Regions from separate parts of the Homo sapiens genome. Here region 1 is linked to region 2. The links come from fine-mapping of genetic effects on gene expression. A gene starts in region 2. The other region holds a variant in brackets. All regions are shown on one strand. Distances are between the middles of the regions.

Evidence for each region.
Region 1: its variant is fine-mapped to the expression of DLEC1 in subcutaneous fat (GTEx, PIP 0.96).

Annotation. Positions count from the first base shown.
Region 1 is chr3:38,099,349-38,102,265 of GRCh38, reverse strand. It overlaps DLEC1 (DLEC1 cilia and flagella associated protein), which reads right to left. Exons shown (of 37, transcript NM_007335.4): 19 at 1,841-1,980. Among named protein-coding and RNA genes, the nearest start is that of ACAA1, 36 kb to the left of the region's middle. The variant C/T (reference allele first, on the strand shown) is at 1,332.
Region 2 is chr3:38,037,562-38,040,478 of GRCh38, reverse strand. DLEC1 (DLEC1 cilia and flagella associated protein) reads right to left here and starts at 1,271. Exons shown (of 37, transcript NM_007335.4): 1 at 843-1,271. The coding sequence starts at 1,253. RefSeq lists enhancers at 477-706, 997-1,206.

The DNA of each region.
Region 1 (2,917 bases), 62 kb before region 2:
GGCTCTCAGAGATTGTTAAGGTGGGAGTGTGTGAGCCTGGAGCTCTAAGTGGCCTCTCCCCAAGGCAGAGTGCGAAGGGCCCTTGTCAATAGGGGAGAGAAGGGCCCACAAAAAAAGAGCAGTAGATGGGTTGGGGCTGGGATGGAGGTAGAGAAGGGGGAAAGAGGGTAGAGAAAGAGAGGAAGCAGAAGACCAGACAAAGGGAAAAGTGTTGGGCCCTTGGATTCAGCAAGGTGGGAATGCCCAGTTACGTGAGCCAATGCTTCCTCTTTTTTGCCTAAGTTGGTAATGTCTGTGTTTCCATCACCTGCTACTGTAAACATTCTGATAATACAAGGTCCTTTCAGGAGAAAGAACAGAGACAGAAAAGGAAAGGAAATAAGCACAGACTTAATAGAAAGCCCTTCCCCTGAGCTGCAGGCAGACTTAGCCTTCACATCTAATGCCCGCAAATTGCCCTGAAGGACCAATGCAAAGACTCATACCTAGACCTGTATTTGTTATCACAGGAGGGGACATTTGAACAACTGTCAGATGGTCAAGTATACAAAGTCCAACAACATTTGTCATGGTGAAAGTGTGGGGTAATGGCTAGTCTCACACACTGTAGGCAGAAGTATAAAATGACACAGTCTTTTTGGAGGATAATTCAAGAGCATCCACAGAGATTTAAATGAGCATTTAAATGTTTTTACAATGAAACACCAAATATATGCAAAAATGAGTATAAAACATATATACAGTTTAAACATATATATAGTTTAACGAATAATAAAACAACATCTATGTACTACCTCCACACAACTTTAGAAACAAAATATTATCACCAGCCAGCTTAAGAAAATGAATATATATATATATTCATTCACTGCAACCTCTGCCTCCAGGATTCAAGTGATTCTTCTGCCTCAGCCTCCTAAGTAGCTGGGACTACAGGCGAGCACCACCATACCTGGCTAATTTTTGTATTTTTAGTAAAGACGGGGTTTCACCATGTTGCCAGGCTGATCTCGAACTCCTGACCTCGTGATTTGCCTGCCTCGGCCTCCCAAAGTGCTGGGATTACAGGCGTGAGCCACCATGCCCAGCAGGAAAATGAATATTTTATTTGAAAATAATTTGGGAAGGAGTGGGGAGAAGGAGATAGGGGATATGGATGAAACAGTACTTGCAGTGAGTTGACAATTATTGAAGGGAGGAAAGAGTATGTGGAGGTTTATTATACTATTCTTTCTGTTTTTATATATATGAGAAGTTTTCCACTAGAAAGAAAGAAAAGGAGGGAAGTGGGGGAGCGGAGGGAGAATGAAGAAGAAAAAAAGGAATACTAC[C/T]AATACCTTTGAAACCTCTAGCATGTTCCTCCCAGAATACAATGGTATGTGCTTATTTAAATATGTCACACTTTTTAAATGTCCATTCTCCTGTTGACAGACAGTGGTTTTTTCTAGTTTTTCCTGTAGGAACAGTCCAGTCTGAGCATTCCAACATGAGCACACATCTCCCACTGTGCATGTATAAGGATTTCCCTGGGAGTATACTCAGAAGGGCAAACACTAGCTGATGCTAACGTAGTTTCGAAAGTAGTTATACTAATTTACATCTCTTTAATACACACACCCTAGAAAGATATATACATAATATTATCAGTGGATCATCCCTAGGGAATGGATTATGCGTCATTTTGAGTTTCTTTTCTGTAATTTACAAATTTTATAGAATACTAATTTTCTGGATTCAATAGTTTTAAATCCAGAACATCTCTAGATAAATATATAATATAGATAAATACATCACGAATATGCATAGTTTGTTGTAGTGGCTCTTCCCACGGCACCCTTACCTCCAGGCACCATTTTCCACCTCCAGCTCCAGGACGGTCTCCAGATGCTGGCAGTGCAGGGCCTCCAAGGTGATGTCCACCCTGCACTCCCCCAGAGAGTGAAGCTGGCCACTCGAAGGCTCAATGTCGAAGGGAGACACCTGCCCCGGAGAACACTCAGGAGGATGAGCACTGAGGACACTTGGAATTGCAGAGGAACTGGGGGCTGGCCATGCCTAACCAAAGTCACTCCTAAGCTGCCCCAGCTCTTCCAAGAGCCATCTGGGATCCAGAAACAGGCAAGCAGGTGGGGGACCACAGCCACAAGAGTCTCAGGATTAAGAGCATAGAAACTGAGTCTCCAAGTAAAGGAATACATAAGTCAGAGGGCCCCATGCCCTGGCCCAGATCTGAGAGATAGAAGGCGGAGGGAGGTGCTCCAGGGAAAATGGGGAGAGCTGGGGAGCCAGAGGAGAGCTGGTGAGCCAAACTAGGGGGGTAGCCCTCTGAGCAGCTTCAACTGAGGAAAGCCACCAGGTCACTAGATTAGGGGAGGGGAGAGTCTATTGTGGCCAGATTTCTCCTTTGCACCCACGTGGTCTTTCCCCCACCCCTTCCTTCTGTCCCCTACTGCAGGCTCAGCCTCATTTACCCGCCCCCACCCCCACCCCGCCCCCGGTCTGCTCCTCCTCCCATGCCAGGCACACACACAAAGGGAGAGGGGAAGGGAAAGAGCAGGAAGAAAAGTGTCCCCATCTGGGGAGGGCTCTTTACATTCCATTCTTCCTGCCCTGACTGAGAGAGGACACTTGTCCCTGTAAGGAGCCACTTTGCTTTATTTTGTCTTTGTTGCTCATGTGCATCTCCCTTGGAGCTCTGGGGGTGGCTGTAGTCTAGGGTTGGGTTTCAGCAGCTCTGCGTCCCCTAATCTGAGACCATCTAACAAACCCCAAATCCCAACATTATTTTTGAGAGCTCAAAAGAATAGAGTGCAGAGAACTGTAGAGAGGGAATTATCTTACAATACTATAACATTGGCAATTATTTCCATTATAAAACATAGTTATTCTTCACAGTGGGAGAACACCACAGACTGAA
Region 2 (2,917 bases):
ATTCATTTTGTTAATGTCTATCTACCTCAGTTAGGTTGAAAGCTACAGAGGACAGGTTGCGTGTGTGAGTGTGGGTGTGCCCGAACACTGGCGTTTTTATTCACTGCTGAATCCCCACTGCCTAGAACAGAGTATGACACCCAGCAGACATTCAACAAATGTGTTAAGTGAAGGAATGACTGAAGCTAACGACGTGGGATGCATGTCACTTAAGGGGCAGGTAGAGGACAGAACAGAAAGGAGAAGAAGAAGATCTGAGAGGCAGGAAGCACACCGGGGTAAAGGATCGGGTATGGGAGGAGTGCCCACAAGTTTAAGGGAGTCTTCAGTAGTGTGGCCAGCAGAGGCCGACTCAGCACAGAGGCCGCGAGTCAGCTGGTTTTCTCCTTGTACAGATGAGGAAGCAGAGTTGCTGTTCTAGAGGCTAGACACGCTTCCTAAAATCTGCGCATGAATGGCCCAGTCAAGATTGTGGTTTGTGATACAAAGGCACCCCAAAGCCGGGTGACTTTTGGCTTTATCCTCTCCATGGAACAACTATTCAGCGGTCTGCCGCAGTCGTTCATTGATATATGCAATATATAACGTATGTGTCTAGAGAAATATAGACAGGTGCTACAGATATATGCCGCACGTTGTGTGGTATGTGTGGTATTTGCGCATGTGTGTGTATGGATAGAGCGTCCTTCCACTAGAATGTCGGGCCCACTTCGGCATGATGGGCTGTTTCTCAACTGCAGCCCCAGATCCTGGAACAGCGCCTGGCACCTGGCAGGTGCTGACGCGTGCCGAGCGCTGAGACCCCGGCACCGTCCGCAGACGCGACGCCACCGCCACGTTACCTGCTGCAGCTGGTCCACGAACTCCTCGTGGCGCTCATTCTCGCTGCCGCGGGCCTTGATCAAGCTTGCGCTCACTTCGTCGCCGATGACCTCGGCTGAGTACAAGTTGCGGAAGACGCCGGTGAGCAAGTGCGAGATATCTTGGGTGCGCAGCGAGGAGGGGCGCAGACGAAGCAGCTGAGGCTCGGGACGCTGCGCCAGCGCAAGCTGCGTGAGGCGGCGGGGCCGGGCTGCGAAGCTGTAGTGGAAGGCCTCAGAGTAGGCGAGGGAGGAATACAAGGAGGACTTCCAGGTGGGCTGGCTGGGGCTGCTGGACCCGGCTGGTGGCGAAGTTGGCGCCCACATTGTCCCCTGGCACTCGTTGGTCCGGGACGCTAAAGACCTCCGCGTTTTGGAGCTCCTGGTCTCCATGGCAACCGAGACGCCGCTAACTCCCTGCGGCACTTCGGCTTCCGGCCTCACCCCTTCCGCCTTGCCTTTCTCTCGGATCCCGTCATCGCTGTGGTCATTGTAAACATTTGTGTCTTCAGCATTGTCCTTTTAAAAGTGAGCTTACTAAGTGTGAGGACCCATGAAGAAAGGTTTAATTGACACAGCCAGGCCTATCTGCAAAACCTTGTACCTAACTACCTACCTTCATCCATTCTTTAATTTGTTAAGCAACTGTTCATTCACTCATCATATTTATTGTGTAAAGATTGTGTTTCAGGTCTGTGCTGATTGCTGAAGATACCAAAGAAGTATGATGCTGCTTCTGCCTTCAGGAAGTGCACAGTCGTGTATGTGTGTGTTTGTGATGATGGCGGTGGGTGTGGAGGTAAAAGTAAAACAACTGTACTTTAGTGGGTTAAGGCCAAGGTGGAGATAAATATTGGTTGTCATGGAACTACAAAGGAGGACAGGAACTTAGTCTGTAGAAGGAGCGATTACTTCTTGGAACAAATGAAAACCAAGCAGAGATTTCAAAGAAGGAGTAGACTGAACATCATTAGTCATCAAAGAAGTGGAAATTAAAACCACAATGCAGTACTACAGTTAGTAGAATGACAAAAAACAAAAAAGTACCTAAATAAGAGCGTGTGTGTGGTGGCTCACACCTGTAATCCCAACACTTTGGGAGGCTGAGGCACGAGGATCACTTGAAGCCAGGAGTTTGAGACCAGCCTGGGCAACATAGGGAGACCCCATCTTTACAAAATATTTAAAAATGTGGGAAGGACGGAATGAAATTCAGGAGGAGTGGAACTTAAAGAGTGTGAGGGTGGAGGAATGACACTGATAGGTTAGGGCCAGATCATAAGTGGGTTGGTAGGCCACAATAGGGAATTTGGACTTTATTTTGAGGGCAGTAGGAGGTTCATCAAGGGTCTTAAGCTGGGGCATGTCATGGTCAGCTCTGTTTTACTAAGATCATTCTGATTGCTATGAGAATAGACAGGAGAGGCAAGAGGCATCAGGAAGTTCAGTTAGGAAACTAGCACAGAAGTTAGGAAAGAGATGAAGGGAGATTGGATGAGAGAGAGGGAACTGGATTGGAGATAGATCCAAAAAGTAGAATTGATAAGACTTGCTGGTGGATAATGGGAGGTAAGAAACAGGCACCAAGAATGACTCCCAGGTATCCTGTGTGTGCAATCAGGGGGGTGATGACAGCATCACTGAGATGGAAAAGAGGACTGCATTTGTCCAGGGCAGCAGCATAACATCACATTGACTGTTGTCATTTGCACACCATGGCTTTTGCTCACAGGTGATACAACCAACCACTTTCTACTCCACACTGAGTTTGCTTGCCTTACATCCTGAAACCCACTTCCAGAGATGAGTGCTAGCATGCTTGCCCACACACCTGGGCTACTTCCACTTCTACTTCTCTTGGTTGGGCCTGGCTCTCTCTTTTGTCCTTTCCAGGACCTTTTCTGTCCTGAGAGCTGAGAAGCCAGGGCCGCCTGCCCTGGACTGTGTGCTTGAGAGGCCCATCTCTGGCTGTCCCCCGCACTCTTTCCCACAGAGTAAGAGATCACAGGGCCAAGATGATGTGCCCCGTGCCTCGCCTCCAGGCACATGGGACCCCA